Linked DNA regions of Homo sapiens: all the other regions are linked to region 1. The links come from fine-mapping of genetic effects on gene expression. A gene starts in region 1. Each other region holds a variant in brackets. All regions are shown on one strand. Distances are between the middles of the regions. Region 1 holds the start of PLXNA2 (plexin A2). Region 2 overlaps PLXNA2 (plexin A2). Region 3 has its middle 75 kb from the start of LINC01735. Region 4 has its middle 170 kb from the start of LINC01735.

Region 1 (6,151 bases):
TTCATTTAGACTTGGGCTGAAAAGCTAGCCAGCCCCCCTGTCCTGCTCCAGGCTTTGAGGGACCCCTGTCCTTATGCCCTGCCAAAAAGAAGGACCAGCTGGGATTTCCTTGGCAGACTCATGGTCCCTGGATAGAGATCTCCTGGTACTTTACCACTGCTGCTCCTCAGCATCTTCCCTGCACATCGCTCCAAATGTCATTTCCATTTAACTGCTTTGCAAGCCAGTTTGCCCCCATCCTAATGCAATTTGCTGAGGACAGTGAGGGAGCAGAGAGGGTAATCTGCATTGCCCTCCCTTTATCAGCAGGTCCCTGAAGACGATCGGCTGCGGAGTGGAGGGAAATAGCTCCTTTAGGTAATGCTGGTTGGTGGCAGCAGGGGCAAGTTCTGGAATGAGGAGGGGTTGGTGGTGATGCCAGGTGGAAGAAGGGGAATGAAAAACAACCTCGCTATGACAGATTCCACTGTTTCCTTGGTTCCCTACCCTTTCTCTTCACTGCCCCTTCAGCCTCCAGGCCACCACCAAGGAGAGATCCCAGGTAATTAGTTCAAATGGTGCTCCGTGAAGAGAGAGGGAAGTTAATGAATTCTTCTCTTTTCTTGCCTGGAGGTCAGAGGGGAGAGGGCTGCAAGCAACTCTGGGAGCTTTCTGGGGTTATTGCATAAAAGTTGTGCATTTCAGTTAGGAATAGCTGAATTCCTCCAGCCAAGGTTATCTCTTCCTGGGGCTCTGTCAATCAGTAGAAGGCCCCAGAATCCAAAGCCAACCCAGAGGGAAGAGTGAAGTTTCAAGATCTGGGAAAGAAGCCCAGCAAAGGAGGGAGACTGCTATTGTGTGGGGAGAGGGGAGAGCTAAACCTGACTCCTGCTCTCAAAGCCTCCAGCCCAGGCCAGCCAAGATACTCATCTTGGCCTGCCGCTCATAAGCCTTGTCCACTGTGCGCGTGAATGGAAGGAAATGAATGTGCCCCCAAATTTCTGTGGGTTCTTCCAAACTGATGGGCCCCCAAGTGACTGCCTCAAGCTATGACTGGCAGTCCCAGTCCCCTCAAACTGATGCTGCCTTCATGTCCCTTGTGCACTTTCTACTGGTGTGCCACTGTCACTCTAAGATTCCTACAGGGGACCTGTTCAGATTTCCATTGCCCACTTCATGGGGCTCTCATTTCTAGACCCTTACTGACCTAGAGCCCCAAATCTTTTATCCAACTTCCTCCCCACCATTATTTCTATCCCTCCTGAGCAGAGCTGAGTTTGAGTAGGTAGCTCCCACTAGGGCAAGGGTCATTCCAAACAGGTGGACTTTTTTCGGGGATCTAAAATGGTAGTTTCTGGTGACTCTCTGGGCATCTAGACCATGATTGGCATTATAGAGACTACCTGTGGGATGGATAAAAAGGGCTAGAATTTTCTAGGATCCCTACCTCACTTGTGGGGTGGGGCAAGAAAGAGCACATGGAAGGAAACATTCTCAAATGGTTCATAAGGAGCCTCTGGGACCCTAAGCAAACTCCCATTTCAACCCCCAGCACTCCTGTGGTGCTCAAACTAAGGGGCTGGACCCCTGCTGGGCGATACACCGCAAAGGGAGCCCCGGGAGATGAAACACTTAGACCCATTCAGTGCCTAGGAATCTCTCCCTGAGCCTTATGGAACCCGCGCAAATGATGTTTTCCCATTCCCCTGATCTCCAGTCCCCGATCGGAAGGGAGAGCCGGCGGCCACCAGGGACCCCGGCACTGGAGTGAACGCCCCCAAATCGATCGCTGGCCAGTGTGGCTTTGGGCTGTCTCGCTGGTGCCACCGAGGCCCTCTTTGGGCTCCAGCTCTCAGGACAGCCTTGCCGCCCCGAGCTCCCCAAAGCCGCAGAGCGCCGGCAGGTGCGCGGTGGAGGCGCGCCGCGGAGCGCTGCTGCCGCCCTCAGCCCGCATTCGGGAAGCCGGCGGGCTGCCGGCCGGGAAGCCCTCGGCGGGAGGCAGCGGCTCCAGTGAGCCTGCGATCGCGCGCACGCCGCGCTCCAGCCCGCGAAAGTGGCCGAGCCCACGCGGGGACTCGCCCGCCGCGGCCAAGCCGGGTCTTCTGGGGCCGGGACCCCAAAGAGGCGGGCGCGGGAGAAGCCGCCACGGGTGTGCGCGCCTGTGGGGAGAGGGCGGAGGGCGCTGCCGACTCCGAGCGCCCGGCCCAGCCGCCGCTTACCCAGCTCGGCGACGTCGGTCTGTCCTTCCGTCCCCGCTCGGTCTACCTCGGCCGCCGCCGGCTGCTGAGGGCGGCGCGAGGCCCCTCTCCCTGCCCGCAGCTCGGAATCAGGGAGACGACCAAATCCACATGGAGTCCAAATTCATTAAAATCCACGTCAAGCCACCAGACACTTATCTGTATTCCTGAAGTCGCTCCTCGGTCTCCGCTCCGCGCGCCCCTCAGTCCTCCGTCGCCCCGCAGCAGCCCGGCTGGGCGCTGTCGCCGGCTCTCAGGGGGCACCCGGAGGCGCCGAGGGGGCGTGTGGGGGCGGCCGGCGGTGTCTCTCCTGAGGAAGAAGCAGAGCCCCGGCTGTCTTCAGATTTTTCCAGCGCGACTTTCCGGGCTCCTCTGACATCAGCAATCCCGGCGCTTCCTTCCCTTCTTGCTCTCCGGTTCGTTCACAGTCCCATTTCCTCCGGGAGCCTGGCTTTCCAGATCTATTTCGAGGTTTGCTCCGCTGGCTGCGGCGCTCGCACGCCCTACCGCTCCCAAGCTCTCGGGGTCTCTCTCCGGATCGCTCGCCCTCTCGGCTGAAAAATTCCCAGCAACTGCCCTCCGCCGCCCTCCCGCTCCAGTCTGGCGCGGATGCCGCTCCTCCCGGCAGCTCTGGCTCCCGCGGTGGCGGCGGCGGCGGCGGCGGCGGCGGCGGCGGAGGAGCCCTGAGCGCCGGCCTCCCTATTTCACCATGCAGCTCATTATCATAGAGGCCGCGCGCGTTAACCCCCTCCCCGCCGGCCGCGTCCGCCCGGGCTGGGGCCGCGCCCGCTGCTGGCACCGCCCGCCACCGCCAGCACCCTGCCCCCTCCCCCGCCCGCGCGGACTTCCTCCTCCGCAAGCTGTCAACAAAGGAGAAGCAGGTTTGGCATCCGGAGGCCGCTCGGCTGCCTGTCCTGCGCCCAGCTCAGCCCGGACCCATCGGCCACCTTAAGTAGCCAAGGGGGCAAGGAAAATGCTGCCAGGGCCCGGGAATTCGAGTCGGGCCTTGCGAGCCCAGCTGGCTTGGCCCCCGGGGGAATAGAAGGTCTAGCGTTGGGGTTAGGGGGGAGCTCAGAACACAGGAAGAGTGGGTGAGGGCAGTAGGGACAGGGAATCCCCCCCATTCGCATCACCTGTCACCGCACACATCCTGCACACCTCCCTCTTCATCTGTAATTTGAGTGAGGGGTGAGTGGGGAGGAACGGGGCTTGTCTGGTAGGGTTGAGACTAGAGTCTTGGAATTTGTGGGAGCAAATTTCCTCTTCTTGTAAATTAAAAAAAGAAAAAGGCCAACAAGCTGTCAAATAAGGCTTGAAGTTGTTGTTATTATTATTATTGCAATGAGAAGATGAACCTTGCTCTGAATTGAATCTCAAACTTCCAGCCCTGATAGGGATCCTGGGCATCTGGTAAGTCCCGACTTGCATGGGGGCATTGGGGACGGGAGAAGAGCTTTCTATATCCAATTCAGAGAATCTTTCTGGCAGGGTAATCAGAGGGGTGGCAATAAGATAACTTATTTTAATAACCTAAGGTGAGAGGTTTCGGGATTCTGGATGACAATGTCTCGGTGCCCTCAAGGCCACTGATTCCTCGCCACACAGTCTCAGTAACTCCGCAGCCTCTAGACACGGCTTTCCGGAAGCGGCCTGCAAGCTGGACCCCAGCGAGTTCGCAGGATCTGCGTAGTCCCTGCTCGCGATTAGAGCGCACACGAGTTTACTCCTGTCCAAGTATTCTGATAAGCTTCCTCTACTGCCCTCTCGTGGCCACAGTCCTCAGTGGTATAAATCTAAAAAACAACAAAAATCACTGCGAATACCTAAAAGCAATTGCACCAAATTCTTAGAGCAGTAGCGGCAGAAGAAACGAAGGGAGGGAAGGATGAAGAAAGGGAGCCGGAGAAAAGAGAGAGAGAGAGGAAGAAGAAAAGGAAATCTAGACTAACCAGTCATCTCGAACAATCGCACATTCAACACAGGACTGGGGGATCTAGGCTTTACTCCAACATCTGCAGAAATCAGCGAATTCTTCAAAAGTTCTTCATTGTAATTAGCTGAAATTTGTGTTCCTGTAACTTTCACTGGCTACTGCTAGTTTTGTCCTGTGGGACCACAAAGAATCTGTCTAAGCTGTGTTGCCTGATCCATACCTGTTCTTTCCTTCAAACTTCTTTAGCATTCATTGTTGGTAACACACCAATAAATTATCATATTTACCCTGTGTTATTATTTATTTATTTTTATAAGTAGATCTTGTCTCCCCATGCAGACAGACTAGTCGATCGTTTTATCTCTGGGTAGACTGAATCTAAACCACAATTTATTAAAAAAGATGATTTGAAGAAGATGCTAGAAGATTTTGGAACACTTCCTCCATTTGTTCATGGAGTTTGGCCAGCTACACCTAAGACCAGCCGTGGTAGGATTGGAGATATCTAATTGATAAAGCTCCAAGCTGAAAATTAGGGCCCTCTGGTTCTAAATCAAGTGGTGTCTGACTCTGGAAGAGGTCACCTCTCTTCCCTATGCCTCAATTTAATCACACCTTGGGAAGATTATGATACAATTGAAATAATTTTCTCATATGCCACCCTCCACTCCTGTGGTCCAGAAATAAATCTTAGAATGAAGAGCAAGGAAGCATAAAATGAAACAGACTCTTCCACTCACCCCATCTTTTATCCCCACACCTCCCCTCTCTTTCCTGAATAAAGGGAGAGAAAGAGGGAACACAGGCGGGAGGACACATTGTGGCTGACAGGGTGGCACGACGCCATCCAGATTCCACATTGCCACTGAACAGGGTCTAAGATCTGAGTCCTGTGAGACTATGGAAGAGCCTGTGGTCAGCATAGCAATGGAAAGAGCGCTAACTTGATCTACTGGGAGGTACAGTGGATGAAGTACCTCTAACTTCTCTAGGCCACAGTTTGTCCATCTGTAAGATGGGAATTTCTGTCTTCACTCTCCAGACAACTGGGGGAATTAAAATAGATATATGTAAGCGTGTTGGAAGAAGTAATAGTATCATCAAAATGGAAAGATTGTTGTTATATTTAGTCCTAATAGGCTAGAACAAATATGGATCTTATTAGCTAAACATCTAATTACCATAACATGCTCTGAGAATTTAAAAAAAAACCAAAACCTTGGGTTCATGGTTCGTATTTAGATTTGACATCCTCTGAGGCAACAGCGGTATACCTGAACCTCTAGTCTTTACATCTGCTCGTTAACCTTCTCCCTTTGATCTGGGTATTCATTCATTTATTACGCAAATATTTATGAAGAGCAAATTTACTAAATTTCTTCCTTTAATGGAACTATATACAGTCCATAATTACTGCTTTGGCACATATTTTTAAAGAAAGCATGGCAATAACCCTACAGATTCTATAACCTCAGATCTATCTCTTTCTGAGGTTTCTGGTTTTCTTGTATGTTTCTGCCCTTCACTATATTCTTCCTCATTCTGTCCATCTGATATCAGGCCCACAGCCCCTTGGGACTGACCAGTCCTCTGTCAGGGCCTTGTAGTTCGTCCTCATTTCCATCTGGAAGGATAGATGTAGTGCAACATATTTGTGAGCAGGCTGTCGATATTTAACAAATATTTATCAAATGAATGAACAAATGAATGAATGGGGAAATGTTTATCTTATGCCAAATCCTCATCATTGGAAAATCATAGCACACTCAACAGGGTTCTCCACTCACCCCAACCTACCTACCTTCCCTAGTCAAGATATTCCTGGAACCTCACCTTGAAAGTCATTTGTCACTTCTGCATTCTTGTTCCAGGCCCCAGGCCTCTTCTTTGCTTGTCAAAGAAGCAAGCTAAGTAACTAGATGGGTTACTTAAGCAAGAGAATGAGAGAAGTGGGAGAGGACAGGGCACCAACATTCTGGAATGCCACAGAATGTTTCCTGTG
Region 2 (6,151 bases), 55 kb before region 1:
CTGGGGCAGCAGACTAGATGTAGCCCTCCCTGCAATGACTCCTTGCATAAACAGAAGAAACACCAGTGTACACGCACAGGTGGGGAAAGCATCCCCATGACTTTCTGAGGGAGTTATCACTAGGCACAGATTCTGAGAGCGCTATCTTCATCACCCTGCATCATCATTTGTTGGAAGGAGGCCCAGGAGGGTAGGAGGAAAAGGCTGGCTCCTCCGTCTTTTTTAAATCCATCTTTCCTTCTCCACCATTAAAGGCTTGGGTAGGTGGAGACAACCCCTGTGACTTCTCTTTGAGGTATTCAGATCCTAGCCACATGTTGACACCATATTTAATCCTGAAACAGGTTTCCTTTTCTTGATTTTTAAAGTGGGGGTTGGGAGAGGGGGTTCATAAATAGAGAATAGAAAATGCAAAGGAATAAGAGAATCAACAGAGAAATGTACAAAATGTAATTTGGCAAAAAAACAAACAAACGGAAAAAAACACAATAAAACCAAAACCCACAACCACACCTCCCATAGCCTTTCTTGTTTTGTATTCTCTCTTTTTAAAGTTGGGTTGTTATCTTTGCAACAGAGAATGCCAGCAGGTGTTGCTGGCAGCTGTTTAATGACAGTGTCAAGAACATCTTTCAGAAAGGTAGGCTTGGAGGCAGGAGGCGGTGATGGAGAAAATGGGATAGGGGGAGAGTAGGTGGCCCCACATCTGTAGAGAAGTAGCTAAGGAATGAAGGGCTGTCCTGGGAATTGCAATGTTATTTTATTTTTTTTTTTTTTTTTGAGACGGAGTCTCGCTCTGTCGCCCAGGCGGGACTGCGGACTGCAGTGGCGCAATCTCGGCTCACTGCAAGCTCCGCTTCCCGGGTTCACGCCATTCTCCTGCCTCAGCCTCCCGAGTAGCTGGGACTACAGGCGCCCGCCACCGCGCCCGGCTAATTTTTTTTGTATTTTTAGTAGAGACGGGGTTTCACCTTGTTAGCCAGGATGGTCTCGATCTCCTGACCTCATGATCCACCCGCCTCGGCCTCCCAAAGTGCTGGGATTACAGGCGTGAGCCACCGCGCCCGGCCTGCAATGTTATTTTGTACAAAATCCTTCCTGTAGGAAGGTGGGGGAGGGACAAGAGACATTTTTCAGTTTTTTTGCAGACCTAAGAATTTTGAACCAGAATTACATGCAGCTTGCTGTGTCTCTGGACAAATATCTTAGCTCCTCACTCAGCATCTACCACTTTCTTCTTTATTGTTAGTGACTGTCATGAGGATTAAATGAAAGGACCTGGAGACCCTTAGAGAAGGGTCCCAGCAGTCTCCAGGGGTGATTAGCCCTGCAATTATTCCACATCTGGAAAAAGTAATAGCTCCCAGACTGGCAGGGTTATGTCATGGACCAGCAAGAGAAAGATGGTTTTTGTTACATAGCCCAGAGAGGCTGATCTTGGTTCTGTGTGTGTGAGAGAGACCGTAGGGAGGCTGGATTTGGAAGGGAGGGAAGCAGGAGCAACAGCCTGAACAACAAATGCGCTCCAAAGAACACCACCTGAACAACTCGAGCTCTGAAATCTTTTCTGCACTGTGCTTTCAGCTTACTTCCCTAAAGCTGACTCATGAAAGCAAACCTGAAACTCTCACAAGATAAAAAATTTTTTAGAGACAGCAAACCAGCCAGTGCTATGCGAAGACGTCTGCAAGGTACTCTGTCCTATCTGGACTGTTGTTTCCCTTACTGTTAGCACAATGACCAGGATCTTGTAAAAGTCCCTGGCAAGTATTTTCTCCACCTTCAGAGCATTACCAGGCCATGTACTTGCGGGATAAAACCTGCAGGTGTTAGGTTCTTTCTGATGCTGCTGATCAGATGGGTCAGGTAGCAGAGAGAAGGCAGCACTAACCCTTACATTTGTGCAGTGGTGTGCAGTTACTGTTGCTTTCACACGTATCATCTCACTAAATTGCCCCACGATCCTGTGAAGGAGGAACTGAAATGATCAATGTCTCCATTTTAGGGATAAGAGAACTGGGGTGATTTCCCCAAGGTCAGTGGCTGTAGAGCTGGGACTGAGCTCAGCCCACCCGATTTCTGGGCTTCTCTCCCCCAGCTCCACATTGCACCACCACCAGTGACGCGCACCTGAATATTTATGAGAATGGAGCCCCCAGATCACGTCTTGAGGGGAAGAACAAAGGAGGCAAGCTTATCTCATGCCTTCAACTAGGCACCTGAGGAAAGAACCCATGTCCTATTGTCCTTTACACCTACTGTAGCCCAAAACCTACAGAGATTACATGTCACGAGGTTCTAGCAAGATAGGCTGAATGCCTGCTTTAGGGTAGGATAGAAGAAAAGACACAACAAAGGTATGGAGCCCTCATGGAGGCTGTGAACTTTGAGCCACAAAACTAGGGATTTATGCCTAGGATCCACTGCTTACTGACTCAATAATCTCAGTTCAATCCATTTGCAAAATGGAGATATAGGCTGGGCGCAGTGGCTCACGCCTGTAATCCCAGCACTTTGGGAGGCCAAGGCAGGAGGATCACCTGAGGTCAGGATTTCAAGACCAGCCTGGCCAACATGTCGAAATCCCATCTCTACTAAAAATACAAAAATCAGCTGGGCATGGTGGTGGTTGCCTGTAATCCCAGCTACTCGGGAGGCTGAGGCAGGAGAATTGCTTGAACCTGGGAGGCGGAGGTTGCAGTGAGCTGAGATGGCACCACTGCACTCCAGCCTGGGCATCAAGAATGAAACTCTGTCTCAAAAAAAAAAAAAAAAAGAAAAAAAATGGAGCTATGAATCCCAACCTCTCAAGCTGCTATGAGAACTAAATGAGAGGAGAAATGTGAGAGTATACTGCATACTGCAATGTGTAAAGTTGGATCTTCTGGACCCTGCAGTTTCAGAAGTCACCAAAGATAAGATGGCAGAGGGTTGTGGAAGCTCCTCTTCTTCTGTAGAGCAATGCTTATGTACTCCAGCCCCAGATGGGCTGGATGTAGTGCACCCAGGAAAAGGGATAAGCCACCTTAGGATGGAAAGGACCTGGTGCATGGCAGGTTCTCTATGAATGAGTTTCCCTTCTGTCTCTAACCATTCCAAAACATTCTCTACGAGAAGCGCAAAGAAAAGGGCAAAAAGACAGTCATGAGGACAATCACAAGGACAAGGCATCTTGGGGATCCCTCCAAGCCTTAAGATCCTGAATGATTTCAGGCTACATTTTTAACAGGGTGAACCAGCACCACTGCTTAACACTTCCAGCCACGTTGTGAATCTCTGCTAAGTTAGGGATGAAGTGGGAGAGTCTTATGGTGATGACTGTCACTCACATGATCATGCCTGGGGAGGTGGTGGCAGCTGTGGTCTGTGTTACCTGACTCTAAACAGAGGCAGAGCAAAGATAGTGATCTTGTGGTTGACTCAAGGGCCTGGGCTGAGCTATACACAGGGCCCCACAGGAGG[C/T]CCAGAATAGGGAGGGAAGCATGGTCCAGCAGGCCCACCAGAAGGGAACCCTGACTCCTCCTCCCCTTCTCTTTGAGCTCCTGAGAAGAGATAAAGAGAAAAAAAAAAAAGCGAACCTGGGGCTGAGGCAGAAGGATGAGCATACTGGCTAGCATTTCCTGAGTATTCCCTCTTTGCCAAGTACTGCACTAAAAGATGAACACAACTGACCTCACTTAACTTTTGGAGCAACGCTGCAAGGTAGGTATCATCATTCTCATTTTGCAAATGAAGAAACCAAAGCTCAATAAGGCTAACTGATTTACCCAATATAATCCTCTTAGATGATAGGATTTGAACCAAGATAGTCTGATGCCAAAGTCCCTACTCTTCCCACTACACACACAGCTCCTGTCCAACAGCCCGCCAGTCAGGAGCTACAAATAAAATCCCACACCTCCTACAGCAGGCACTAAATCAGCACGAGGAGAAGCTGGAGGTTGGCAGAGAGAAGATCTTTATGAAGACATTTCAGGAGCAGGAGAAATATCTCCACCCTCTTCCCAGCCAAAAGTGTGGTTGTATGTGTAAGATGAGAAACATTTTGGGGTGGGGGAAGGAGGGTGGAATCTCAAGCTAAAATTACCACCCACACCGAAGTCACCCTGAAGGCAAACTGGGGCCTCAAGGATTTTGTTCGATTGTGTATGTGTGTGTATATGAGTATAGATGGTAGACTGGGAGAGAAGGAGGCAGAAAAGGGATTTTTTTTTCATTCCCAGTGGCAGTTATGAACAACATTTTCCTCCCAAAACTCATGCTTCTCCATCACTTACTTACGTCATGTTTTCTCCTTTCTGACCTTGTGCAGAGAGCTAGCATGCTTTTGTAGATGAGTAGACTTTGGGGCTAGAAGACCTGGGTTTGCTTTTCAAATCCACTACCCACTGAGTTGTTTAATAACTGCATATTATGTGAATAAATGGGAAAATAATTTAATCTCCCTGAGTCTTAGTTTTCTTATCTCAAAAAATATAGTACCTATGTTGCAGGGCTGTTAGAAAGATCAAATGAAGAGTGCTTAGCACAGTGGTTGACACATGGTTGACGCTCCAGAAATGTTGGTTGCCTTGATCAGGGTTTGTCAACCTCAGTACTATCGACATCATGGACCAGATAATTCTTCATTGTGGGGAGGAAGTCCCATCCATTGTAGGATGTTTAGCAGTATCCCTGGCCTCTACCCACTAGACGCCAATAGCTCTCTTTGCCCAAGACATAGCAATGAAAAGACATCGCCAGATACTGCCAAATGTCTGCAAAATCACCTCCAGTTGGAAACCACTAGCTTGATGTAATTAATACAGATATTAGCAACAAGTAATATGTTTGACAGCACATAGCAGGCCCATATGTAATTGTCATTGTTTTTGAATGAGTGAGTAAATAATTGTATGAATGAACACTCTAATAATGGGCGTTGCTCTGCATCTTCGAACCTTTGGTGGCAGGAGTACAGTCTACTCAGTCCTGGACCCCAGAAGGTTGATGGAATCCTCTGTAGTTGTCTTTCAGTGCAGACCTGCCATCTGCTGGGATTTGCAGGTGGGGCACTGACAGGTGAGGGAGGCTATGAGCTAAGTGAGGCTAAAGGATTTTTCCCTCTGGAAAAGGGCGGTCCCAAAAGGATTCGGCTGCAGCACTGCTGGCTTGAATTTCTGTGTATGAGATGTGACTGCCTGAATCATGTGCACTCCCCAAGAACCTTGTTCTTTGCCCATGGCCAGCAACAAACATTGGTAAGAATCCCGGAGGTCCTGCCTCACGCGGAAACACAGCACACATCTGCAAGCGCCTTTGACTCACATCAAGAAGGTGCCTCAAAATTGGGGCAGAGAGATGGCTCCTGTCCTAGGATTTCTTCCCCCTCCCCACTTTTCTCATCTCCTTTTCTTCTTTTAAAACATTTATTGAATGTCTTTTATATTAGCTGTTACTATAGATAGAGAGATAATGAATGCAGCCCTTATCCTAAAATCGTGGCGCGTACTGAGGGGAGGGAGAGAGAAAAGAAAAAGGACAATTATAATAGTACATACAACAATAATATTACTGTTTCCTGAGTACACACTCTATTTTGGACACTGATCTATATGCTTTACATGTATTAACTCATTTACATGTCCCTCACAATGAGCCTGGGAGGCAGAAATTATTATTATTTCCAGTTTGCAAATGAAGAAACAGGCACAGAGAGGTGAGGTTATTGTCACTATGTCGCACAGATATTAAGGGAGAGAATCAAGAGTTGAACACAGATACTTTGGCCCCAAGGCCTGGACTCTTCTTAAACGCAGTGCTCTCCTGCTCTGACAGCCACATAATTGGGGTGCTATGAAGCACATGGGGGCTTCCTAGAGGAGGTGGTGTATCAGCATGTGGAAGATGAGGAGGTGTTAGCTGGGCACGGGGCAGGGCGAGGGGTTCCTAGTCTGAGAACACTGCACACAAAGCCCCGAGGTGAGAACAAGCATGAAGACGTGTCAGGGTCAGGGATCCACGAGGCGATTCTTACCCTCCCTGAGTGGACTCCCTCCCCTTGCCTCATGGTGGGAGTAAGACCCACCCAGCTGATGGGACTCCTACCTTCTGGCCTGATTTGGTTCTCTCAATATTGATTTGGAGCTACCTCTTCAGCCTCCTCTCTCAG
Region 3 (6,151 bases), 290 kb after region 1:
GCTTGTGAGACAACAGGAAGGAGCTGCAGGCATAATCTTCACCCCATGCCAGAGAAAGGACCATCAAAAGGAAATGATTAGGAATCATTAGGAACCAGAGCTCAGCCTGGACTGTTCTGTGGTTTGCCCACTGTAGCACGACAGGAAATTGAACAGACTAAACTTTAAGAAATGCGGAGAATGAAGGGTATCATGAAAAGGAGATAAAAGTCTGTTGCAGATTTTCAGGCCTTAGGTGAGGAAGGCCTGGGATGGGCAGAACTGAATGTGAGAGGCGATTACCGGGGAAGAATAGGTTGGATTTGGTGGCAGACAGCATCTAAGGGATTAAGGAAAGGGAGTAATTGATATTATCTCAAAGAGTTTGAGCCTGCTTACTGTGGATCTGCAGTGCCATTAACTGCATAAAGAAATTTTGAGAAGGGGAATCATTTGAGGTCTGCCTCCGCACTCAGTGGTGGTAGAAATTCTCCTCCCAACAACACAATAGCTACCACCTATAGATTGCCAAGCCCTTCCGCAAATGCATGAAGGGAGGTATTAAGTGACTTGCTCCCTCAAGGTCTTTATCTACTTTTCTGTGGGTTCACCTTTGGTTCCCAGGGGAATTTTGCATTTTTAGTGAAGTAGCCATGCAGAGACAAGGTCTGTAGACTGGTGTGTGGGGACACAAAAGGCAGTGAGCAGATAAGAGCTGACAGTTGCTATGCCAAAAACAGGAGAAAGGGGAGACATATTTCTCTTTATGCAGCGGAGATCTTCTTTGATCAATTTACATAAATTGATTTTTTTAAAGTTTGAAACCTTTCTCCCCATTATTCTTATTTTCCTCTCAAATCAATGAATGCATCTCAGTTTGATTTTCTATAATCAGTGGCTTGCTATGAGCATTTCTATCCTACAGTTTAAAGACCTGTAAATAAACACTTTCGTGTACTCAGGGGAACAGATGCTTAAAGGTGTTCTTTGATAATGTACATGATCAACACTTAATGCATCTTTTTGTAGCTTCCCATTTTCATGAAAACAAGTTATCCTAAAGAGAATTATTTCTAAAGTCAAGGACTGGCTCCTTCTGGAAACCCCCATCTAGCCCCCAGCATAGGTTGATGGCTGGGCTGGGCTTTGTCTCTCAGGCTGCTTGGCAACAATGGGCTCTCTCCTCACTGGGCACTGACCAGCCGCTGGGAACAATGAACTCATGCACCCTCAGCCAGCACCAGGAGTCACTTAGTTCTCCTTTTGACCTTGCCTTTCAAAAGCTGATCCTTATTAACCATCAGGATGCGGTGGGGAGTTGCTGAGACAATCCTCAGCAGCAGCAGGGTGACCCCCGAGTTGTGTCTGCTCTGAGACAATATAACCCCTAAGCTCCAGGGCTCCGAGGGTAGTGATTTAACAAATCGTGTGTTTAAACAACTGATGGCACGACGCTGTTGGAGGGGTCTTTGAAGCACATTTCTAAATAATGGGGGAAATAATGAACACCTCTCACAAGGGTATTTAAATGACATACACATTAGGAGGTTGGGGGGAGGCTCTTCTCTTCTTGCATAATGGACACTTTTTCCTGTTCTTTCATCCTGTTTTCACTTCATGCTTCAAAAATAGTTGTTGAGTGAGCAGACCTCTGGGCACTTTGTAACCAGAAAGAGAAAGACCGCCAATGGCCTGTCACCAGCCTTTCTGAGAGGTCCCAGCCTCTCAGATGCCCTGATGCAGGCAGAGGAGTCCAGTGGAAAGCCCAGAGCATTCCTGCTCCTAAATCCCCTTCCTCACCTGCCATTGGAAACATATTTCCTTATTTAAGACATTGCTGTCAGTAGATGGGAGGTGGCATAGAAAGCTGCTTGTGGGCAGTGACATTTGGCACATTGCAGTTACCCAGATTATGTTCTAAGGAAAATATTAGCTGGGAGAGAATGGGGCACAGGATTAGCAAACTTTGATTTCGTGTTGTGGGGTACGTGGGAGTATGGAAGGGAACAGGCTTGTAGGACTAATTCCAGGTTCTTAATATAGCAAATCTCTGCCTACATCTTTACCTAGTTTCTCACGACTCCCCATATCCGGCTTGTTCCCTAGCATCATGCTGATATTCTTGACACACGCTTACACTGGTCCCTCGCCTAGACCTCTCCTACTTTGCCTGTGTATCTTCTACTCTGCCCTAGTTTCTTCGTGAGGCAGGGTCACAGTACCACTTTTGCTGGTCCTAAGCAATTTGGCCTTTGTGGGCTCTTCTTCCAAAAAAAAAAAAAATGTAAAATTCTATTTGATAACAGCACTGGCATGAAGATGCGTATAATGTAGGCTGAATTCATTGTTACTAGCCGTTATTATTATAATCATCTATTCTTGTTTTAAAAGAAATTAAAATTAAAGCATTTTTGTGGGCCACAGGCTCTGTGGCCTGACGGATGTCATGGCTAACGGATGTCAGCTCTGCACCTGAGAGCCCTTTCTGCCTTCCCCGCAGGTTACACACCCATTGTCTGTTGTTCTCATTAACTTCTCTTTAATATTGCTCTTGCCACACTGTACTGTAGTTTCCTGTTTGCGCAGGTTACGCACCCATTGTCTGTTGTTCTCATTAACTTCTCTTTAATATTGCACTTGCCACACTGTACTGTAGTTTCCTGTTTGT[G/A]TATTTGCCTCTCCTATTAAACCTGGTTCTTCTTGAGAAGAGAGAACTGTGCTGTGTTCATTGTGGAATACTGCACAATTCACCCAGGGCCTAACTCGTAAGTAGCCACTCCACACATCCACATTGTACTGAGCGGTTGACAAAGACAGAGCTGGTGGGGCACTGTCCTGAGGGTTCGGCCACAGCAAGGAAGGCACTGGTCAGCAGGAATGGTGCTGACAGGGCAAGTGGGTGGGAGGATTTCGCAGATTTGCCTTGCCTGTTCTACACATTAGCTGAGGGCCGAGACTGCCCACAGGCAGTCATAAACTGGCTGTGGTGGTCAAAGCCACCTGCAGATCTGACAGGAGGAAAGGCTAAGCTCCTCTCTGTCCAACGCGGCTTTAGTGCCCTAAGGAGATCACCTTTCCAAGCACAGCAACCCTGCCTGTGAGCAGGGCCCTGTGTGCCCACATAAAATGGAGAAACAAAAACAACACAATCGATAAACGAGCAATTTCATAAGTATGATTTGGGGTCAGTTTGGCTGGAGGGGAGAATTTAATTGCAAAGCTCCTACGTCTCAACTGCCTGAGGGTAGAAATTGGAGAGAGAAGAATGGGAGACTCGAATGTTGATTATTAATAAGTCTTAAGGGTTGAGGGTGGAGGAAGACCTGTGAAGACTGAGGTTAAAATGATGCAGATGAAGGCACTTTAGGTGAATGCTTTGAATTTATACATTGCTGCTTCAAATGGCCCCAAACTTAAATAGAAAGATGATCTGTGTTGCATTTCAGAATTTGTTCTTATAAAAATGAAAAGCCCAATAGGGTATTGTGCTAACAACCTACTAGAATACCATTTGGCATTAAAAGAAAAAGAAGTTCAAGATGTAGTCCCTACTGTCAAATAGCTTGGAATCCAAACTGGGCAAGGCAGGTCATGTGTGAATCTCTTGTTGAAAGTGACAGAGCAGAGTGAAAACCACATAGACCTCTGGACTGAGTAAGCAAAGAGCAGGTGGGCAAGAGAAGTGAGGGGATCCAGGCTCCCATGCATGAGTGGGCTGGGCTGCCGGGACAGGTTTATCTAGCTGGCCTCACTGGAGGGTTCCAGTGGGACTAATGGATGGTTGCTAAATCTGCATCTCCAGATCTAGTCCTGTTTCTGAGCCCAAGAACCAAAATTCAATCAGCCTTTGGGATATGTTTTCCGCAAAAGACCTTTGTCAACTAAACAGACTTGACCGTTGCCCTCTAGCTCCTGCTGGTGTCCCTATTTCTGTTAATGGCAGCTTCATTACTTAATCAGAATCAGTTTCAGCATTCTTCCTGACTCCATCCTTTCCCGTATGCTCTATTTTAATTGGTACTCTGGCCCCAAAGATTCTTTTTTCACAGCTTCGCTTAAGTCAGATCTCATCTTTCCTACTCACAGGCCACCCCCTTAATATCATTTCGTGTCACCTTCTTCTGGACCGTTGAAATATCCTCCTAATGGTTTCTTCTTAGACTTATTTTAATGTATATATTGGCATTAGAATAATTTTACCCACACTGTCCTGGCTCAACATCTGCAACAGCTGTTCATGGCCTCCTAAAAAAGAGTCTTCATTCAGGCATTCTAGAAAACTGATTGAGAAGAAAAGGCTTTGGTGTCAAACAGACCTAGTTTGAGCCCCAGTTCTATTACTTAGCAGTGTGACATTTGCTGAATTAACCACTCTAATCCTGATAGTTAAAATTTAGGTAATTATTGTGTCTACATCATCATGTTGCTGAAAAGATAATAGATGCAAAGTGCGTAGCACAGTGCCTGGGACAAATAAGTGCTGGATAAAGCAGTTATTATTTTTTAGCTATTATGATGCTTTGCTTCTTATCAATCTGACTACATCTATATTTAAAATAACCCTGATGTTAATTACCTCACACATACCTATGTTCTTACCAAGTGAGACTCTTCACTTGCCTCCTGCAGGGGGGGCTCTGAAATTCATTCTGCTGCCACAGGACTGGCATCCAGGATAGCCGAGTGAGGACCTGGCACCACCTGCTCCCTGAGCACAGCCTGCCAGTAACCCACAGCATTTCCCAAGCCACAAATTCAGACTTCTTCTTCAGTCCCTGGTTAGTGATGAGCCTCTCTTCAGTGCTAGGACCCTTCCCTGAGTCCCAGTAAGATGGGCCGCCCTTGAAACCCTGCTCATCCTGGCAATCTGCTGTATCTTCCTTGCTGGCATGTGGATGTCTCTGTTTCCAACAGGAAGGGCCATCCACCCTTGAAACACTGCTATGTGGAAAATTCTGAGTATGAGGCAGCATAGAAGAGTGGTTAAGGTCATGGTTGTTGGAATCAGCTGAATAGGGTCCCATTTCTGACTCCAGTGTGACCTGGAACAATTTATTTAACCTTTTACTTCCTAATCTTTAAAGCAAGGACAATCATACCACCTTATCCTGTATTCTTCTAAATGCAGGGCCTGCTAAACACACCTATGAGCTTACTTGGGCATGTGATCCCAGAAGAAGGAACCCAAGCCAGGGGAGGAGTGAATCAGTGTAGGAGGGCAGGCAATGCAAGGAGGAGTTATGGATTTGGATACTGCACAAGAGACTGGTGCTCAATTCCATTAGAATTTCTAAGCGGCATTATGAAATCCAAATCAAAATGAGCTGTCCAGGGAACAAAAGGAGAAGCATTTATCCATTAGCTTCTGTCACCCATTAGTCAAGGGTGATCCCCACTTGGCGTTAACCACTGGCACTTGCAGGTTGCACTTGTGTGCGTGCCAAGCTGCAAATCAGAGAAGCTCTAGGACAGGAAATGAGAGGTGCATGGTGAGACTGGAGGAGGTGCTGTCAGGCTGTGCCTGAGCAAAGCTGGTGGAGGCCTTTGCAGGCGGGTTCTGCAGAAGTGGCTGGAGCAAGAGACAGAGCCTAGAGATGCCTCTGTACACATTTCTATCTTGCAGAGCTGTAGTTCTCATGAGGAAATATATTAAAAGGTTAAGCTCCCACAGACATATAATAAATACTTTCTTACTCAAAACTCTCCCATGGCTTTTCATCAAGTTAGAAAAAAATTTAAAGTCCTTGACCGTGGCCTCCAAGTCTCTATATGATCTGGACCTGAGTTACCTTGCAGACTTTATTTCTTACACTCTACCTTTGGCTCTTTCCTCTCCATTTATACCCTGCAGGTTGGACCACAGGCTGCCGTTCACTCTAAAGTGAAAAACACCCTGAGCTTATTTTGGCCTCAGGGCCTTTGCACTTTCTACTGCCTCTGCCTAGAATATCCTTTCCCTTGATGTTTGTATGGCTTTCCCCTCCCTTCATTCATAGCTCTGTTCAACTCTCACCTCCTCAGAGAGGCCTCCCCTGACCAGCCCATCTAAAATAGCACCCCTAATACTGTGGTGACACTCTATCTCCTTACTGAGATCTCCCATACCACTTACCTTTCCTGACATTATGTTGTTTGTAACTTATCTGCTCATTGTCTATATCCGTTTTTAGAA
Region 4 (6,151 bases), 200 kb after region 1:
GAGGCTGAAGATAGGGCTCCAACCCCTTCCAGCTTGTAGGGTTTCTGCTGAGAAATCTATTGTTAATCTGATAGGTTTTCCTTTATAGGTTACCTGGTGCTTCTGTCTCACAGCTCTTAAGATTATTTTCTTTGTCTTAACTTTGTATAACTTGACGATAATGTGCCTAGGCCAAGATCTTTTTGTGCTGAATTTCCCAGGTGTTCTTTGTGCTTCTTGTATTTGCATGTCTGGGTCTCTAGCAAGGCTGGGAAAGTTTTCCTTGATTATTCCCCCAAATATGTTTTCCAAGCTTTTAGAATTTTTTCTTCCTCAGGAACACCGATTGTTCTTATGTCGTTTAACATAATCCCAGACTTCTTGGAGGCTTTGTTAATATTTTCTAATTCTTTTTTTTTGCCTTTGTTGGATTGGGTTAATTTGAAGACCTTGTCTTCGAGCTCTGAATTTCAATCTTCTACTTGTTCAATTCTATTGCTGAGACTTTCCAGAGCATTTTGCATTTCTAAAAGTGTATCCAAAGTTTCCTGAATTTTTAATTTTTTTTCTTTAAGCTATCTATTTCTTTGACTATTTCTCCCTTCATTTCTTATATCATTTTTTGGATTTCCTTGCATTGGATTTCACCTTTCTCTGGTCCCTCCCTGATTAGCTTAATAACTAACCACTTGAATTATTTTTCAGGTAAATCAGGGACTTCATATTGGTTTGGATCCATTGCTGGTGAACTAGTGTAATTTTTGGGGGGTGATGAAGAGCCTGGTTTTGTCATATTGTCAGGGTTGGTTTTCTGGTTCCCTCTCATTGGGTAGGCTCTGTCAGAGGGAAGGTCTAGGGCTGAAGGATGTTGTTCAGATTCTTTTGTCCCACAGCATAGCAGGACAATCCACAGACAAAACCCCTCAGACATGGAGTTAAAGAAGGAAGGGCTTTATTTAGCCGGGAGCTTCGGCAAGACTCAGGACTCCAAAAACCGAGCTTCCCAAGTGAGCAATTCTTGTCCCTTTTAAGGACTTATAACTCTAAGGGGGTCTGCGTGAGAGGGTCGTGATCGATTGAGCAAGCAGGGGGTACATGACTGGGGGCTGCATGCACTGGTAATTAGAATGGAACAGAACAGGACAGGGATTTTCACAATGCTTTTCCATACAATGTCTGTAATCTATAGATAACATAACCAATTAGGTCAGGCGTCAATCTTTAACTACCAGGTCCAGGGCATGGCGCTGGGCTGTCTGCCTGTGGATTTCATTTCTGCCTTTTAGTTTTTACTTCTTTCTTTGGAGGCAGAAATTGGGCATAACACAATATGAGGGGTGGTCTCCTCCCTTAACAGGGTGTTCCCTTGATTTAGTACTCTCCCCCTTTTCCTGTGGATGTGGCTTCCTGTGAGCTGAACTGAAGTGATTGTTGTCTCTCTTCTGGGTCTAGCCACCCAGCAAGTCTACCCAGTTCCAGGCTGGTACCAGAGGTTGTCTGCACGGAGTCCTGTGATATGAACCGTCTGTGGGTCTCTCAGCCTTGGATACCAGCACCTGTTCTGGTGGAGGTGGCAGAGGGTGCATTGGACTCTGTGCAAAAAATAATGCTCCATTTTTGTGCTGGTCGGCCTCCTGACAGGAGGTGTCACTTTCCAGAAAGCATTAGCTGTAGCAGTGTGGAGAGGGACTGGCAATGGGTGGGGCCCTAGAACTCCCAAGATTATATGCCCTTTGTCTTCCACTACCTGGGTGAGTAGGGAAGGACCATCAGGTGGGGGCGAGGCTAGGTGTGTCTGAGTTCAGACTCTCCTTGGGCTGGTTTTGCTGCAGCTGCTGTGGCAGATAGGGTAAGATTCCCAGGTCACTGGAGTTGTGTACCTAGGAGGATTATGGCTGTCTCTGCTGAGTCATGCAGGTTGTCAGGGAAGGGCAGTCAGGGAAGTGGCAGTCACAGGCCTCACCCAGCTCCCACACAAACCAAAGGGCTGATCTTACCTCCCACGGTGCCCCACCAAAACAGCCCTGAGTCTGTTTCCAGGCAGAGGGCTAGACGGGCTTGAAAACTTGCCGACGCTTTCCGCCTCCCAGAGTATATTTGAGGTGTCTCCCGGGTCCTGCAGTAGCAGTGTGCTTCCTTCAGAGGGTCTGTGGGTCCTCTCAGGATTGCTGGTTTGTTCTTGCTGTTGATCCGGAGCTAAAATTCACAGTGCAAGCCCCCGCATGCTGCTCTGTTCCCAGCTGCAATCTAGTCCTCCCTCCCGTCTGCCATGATCCTGAAATCCCCCTCTCTGTGGTTCTTGCTGCCCTTTGCATTACTTCTTTCCTTCTTGATTGCACAGGCTGAAAGTCTAGGAACTTGGACTTCTGCCTGTCTCTGGAAAGGGGCCCCAGGCTGTCCAGAGTAACAAATTATCTGCTTATCACAGTTGACACTGCTACCATTCTACTTTATTATTTCCGGCTATTATTTTCCCTGA[T/G]TTTTGGGAAGCTGACTGCAGCTTTTTATCTAGATGCTCACACTCCATCACCGCTCTACCACCTCCTCTGTCTACTTGCCTCCCACCTTTCTGCGTGGGCTGCCCTGCCTTCTCCACACAGCGAGTCTTTATCCACTTCATCTGGTTTATCTGCTGAGAGTCCTCAAGGTTCAGTTGTTTCTCCATTGTTATTTGCAATTTATCTGATTCTAAACCTGACATTATATCTCACTGTGATATACAGTTATCTGGCTATTGTTTGTCCAATGCAAGTATATTATTTTGCATCCACTTTTTTTCTTGCTTTTCGAAGTTGGGAACCATGTCTGTAACATCACAAAATCTGATGTCTGCAAATCATCCCCGTAACTGCAGAGATAAGACAGGACTCATTACCATTCATGTTATCCTCACTTGGGGAGAACTCAGGTCAAATTTCTTTACCCTTGGATAACACTTTTCTTTAATTTTAAACTTGTCCTTTCTCTCTCTCTCTCTCTCTCTTTTTTTTTTTTTGTATCTTTTTTGAATTCAAGACATTCATTCACCTCCCACAGCTTGCTTCTCTGATTGGAAGACCATTTCTACTGGTGGCAGGCATAGTGTAAATATTTCATTTTTGAGGTTTGTTCAGCAAGGACTATTCGGACTGAAGATGAAATGCCAGCTAAAGTCCCTGTGTGTGAAGAACATCATGTTCAGCCTTTTTCTCCCAAGGCAAATTATTTGCTTAACTAAGGGTTTCTTCCTTGATTACAGTCCTTATTATTGAGATCTTGTCTGAATTTCCCAGGTGTGTTTTGAATTTCACAATCTCACTCTATACTCCACAGAGCTAGTCTCAGAAAATAGATTTGCATGTGCCCCCAGCTCTGACGGAGACAGAGCCCTTCCCTAGACAAAAAGCCCTGGGAATAAAGGGCTAAACAGTAACACAGTATCTGGGCATGCTAATTATTATTATTATTATTATTGACTGAGGACATTGGCTGGCTGTTAATAGACACATCTATTAGGTGTCATATTGTTTGTCTTGGGACATTGCTTCTCTTGATTTGTAAGATTTTAGAGGAGAATGAAAAAACTAGGTGAAAATTCAACAAGTAATATTTGGTTTTGGCATTTAAAGAAAACACATAAGCACCTCTGATGTGCCAATCAATGTGCCAGGCACAGGAACACAAGGGTGAGTAAGAAAGTAGTCAGTCTTTAAGCATCTTCATATATAGTGGGAGAGAGAGACATGCAGACAAGCAATTATAACATGTTGATACATTCTCCGACAGAGACCTCTGCAAAATGCCATGGGAGTCCAGAAGATGAAGTTATAAATTTCCCAGGGGTACCAGGGACAGTGTGTCAAAAAGTGAGCCTTGCAAATGACTGGGAGTGTCTCAGATACGGAAGGTGAGGACTGCATTCAGGCATAAGCAGCTCTGAGTGTGGAGGAATGGCCAGCTGGGTTGTGGAACAGGACAGAAGGCGAGAGTGAGGGCAGAGGAGAGAGGGCAAAGGCCTGGCTAGAAAGGGAAATTAGAGGCTGGCAGTAACAGAGCTCCCCCTATGTGAATATCAGATATCAGGTTCAGAGTGCCTCCCAAAAAAACAAGGGAAGGGGGAGAGGGTGGACCTTCCAAAGGGACATCAGCAGAAGATTCTGACTTTCTCTTCTTTTGAAATTACCACCCATTCCAAGCTCAGATGTCTGTCCTCATGCTGCCTTTCCTACTCAGTGGCTACAGGTCTGGGGACTAACCAATGGGCTTGTTCTTGACCTTGCTTCATGGCATCTGTTTCTGTTTAGACATCCCCACCTTCTTTTGTTCATTTCATTTTTTTTACGCTCTACTGATTTAACCATGGCCTCTTTTATATCCTATTTCAGTTAAGGCCCTGCTTTCATCTTCTCCACTGGCATTTCAGGCCTTTGCCCAGCTAAGCAGTGACCATATATGCCAGCGCTAGGTACCATCCTGGAAAGAGAGAATCAGATAGGATGGGCAAAGGCCTGTCTTAATGAGTGCTATTGAGATCTACTTGTAAGAGAAAAACAGATGTGGTTTCTATAACCTCATCAAGAGACATGTTATTCAGGATGGGATCAGGTGGGGGAAGGTGAGAAGATAATAGTAACTACGTCTGAAAGGAGAGGTATGTGACATTACCATGACAAACGTTAGAGGAGAGGTGGAGATGCTAAGGTATGGGAGCTTTTAACAATTGCTACATATGAATAATATTGGGAGATTATGTGAAATTATTGGGAGTAGTGTGAAAGAGAAGCGTAAAATTGGAAAATAATAGGTTTGGTGAATTACGGCACTTAGTATTTTCTCTGTCATTACCTTCCCTCCTTCCACCCCCTCAGTCATATCAAAAGTATCAAAAGCAGGTATGCAGAATGCAAGAAGGTGAGAAGAATGACAATCTTACTTTCTCGATCCCTGGATCCCAAAGCATGTTAAAAATGTTAAACCAGCAGTTTGCTCACAGAGACAGAAGCCAACTGTGGGGTGAAATTGCATCAGTAGGGACATGAGGGTAGACTTGAGAAAAATAGGGTTGCAAGGCACTAAAATAACAGAGGGAGGGCATTAGAGTTCCCTCTGTGGAAATCTGTTAGAAGAGGAGAGAAAACCATCTGTCTGGAACAGTGTAAATATAGTCATGCTTATGCCCAGGGGATGGACTTATTTTTTCCTTTTAAACAATTTTAACTGAAAGTTTTATGTGAAAACACTATCAAAGTACAAGAGAGTACTTAGTATTCTGTTTTAGTTTGTTATTATTTTATTATTAAACATTGTACAGTTAGCATTTTCCACATTTCTGCTTGGTCTTTACAGTTATTTTAATGGCTGCATAATATCCCAGTATATTGTAGAATTGTTAATGTAATAATATATCTGGTATTAGCTCTGTATATCCATTGCTGGCCCAATATTTGAGTATTTTTATAGACTTCTTTAATTCCTCTGCACTGTTCAAATTAGTCTGCCTTTCCTTTCCCAAATATTCCTAAACTTCTACCTGCAACCACCCCCACAACCACCAGCAGAATGCCCGTTCCACTTCATCTCTACTGGCCTATAGGGAGGAAACACGGGTGGTGGTAAAGGCTTCGCTGTCAGGTCAGAATCAGGTTTCCCATTTTTATTATTTACTAGTTTGGGGATCCTGTGACACTGGGCACATTATTTCATCTTGTGAGCTCAATTTCTTCATCTGGAGAATATCTGTAATTATATGTATCTTGAAGGGTTGTGTAAGGATTAACAACAACATTTATAAAGTGCTTGCTACACAGTAGATGCCTAGACGGTCTGATTACTGGGGACCCCACGACAAAGAAAGTTGTCTTCTTACATCCAATTAAAAGCACGTCGAGGGCAGGAATCTTATTTTCTTTGCCCCCGAATCCCCCAATGGTGCAGAGGGATTTATACGATTCATGCTTGTTAGTTGATTATGTAGATCTTTGCTGAATATCTGACTTCAAGGACAATGTTGTCAACTTGTATATGATTAGTGTGGGGTCGGGGGGTGTTAGGGGCAGAGGGAGTGGAGGAGGTAGGGCTGTTGAGCATGTGCTTTCTGAGTTTCTGAACTCTTGCGCCTCCTGTCGGCAGCCAACAGGTTCTAAAATGGCGGCAGCTCATGGCCCAGTATGGGTCTGCAGCTCCACCTGTAAGG

What was found. PIP is the estimated chance that this variant, and not a neighbour inherited with it, causes the effect.
Region 2: its variant is fine-mapped to the expression of PLXNA2 in lymphoblastoid cells (GTEx, PIP above 0.99).
Region 3: its variant is fine-mapped to the expression of PLXNA2 in whole blood (TOPMed, PIP above 0.99).
Region 4: its variant is fine-mapped to the expression of PLXNA2 in whole blood (TOPMed, PIP above 0.99).

The regions. Positions count from the first base shown.
Region 1 is chr1:208,241,445-208,247,595 of GRCh38, forward strand. It overlaps PLXNA2 (plexin A2), which reads right to left and starts at 2,940. Exons shown (of 32, transcript NM_025179.4): 1 at 2,199-2,940. RefSeq lists enhancers at 1,478-1,979, 1,980-2,479 and a silencer at 2,998-3,057.
Region 2 is chr1:208,185,951-208,192,101 of GRCh38, forward strand. The region is part of intron 3 of PLXNA2 (plexin A2); the gene reads right to left. Among named protein-coding and RNA genes, the nearest start is that of PLXNA2, 55 kb to the right of the region's middle. The variant C/T (reference allele first, on the strand shown) is at 3,463.
Region 3 is chr1:208,536,252-208,542,402 of GRCh38, forward strand. No RefSeq gene overlaps it. Among named protein-coding and RNA genes, the nearest start is that of LINC01735, 75 kb to the right of the region's middle. The variant G/A (reference allele first, on the strand shown) is at 2,648.
Region 4 is chr1:208,444,055-208,450,205 of GRCh38, forward strand. No RefSeq gene overlaps it. Among named protein-coding and RNA genes, the nearest start is that of LINC01735, 170 kb to the right of the region's middle. RefSeq lists enhancers at 1,138-2,337, 1,497-1,997. The variant T/G (reference allele first, on the strand shown) is at 2,459.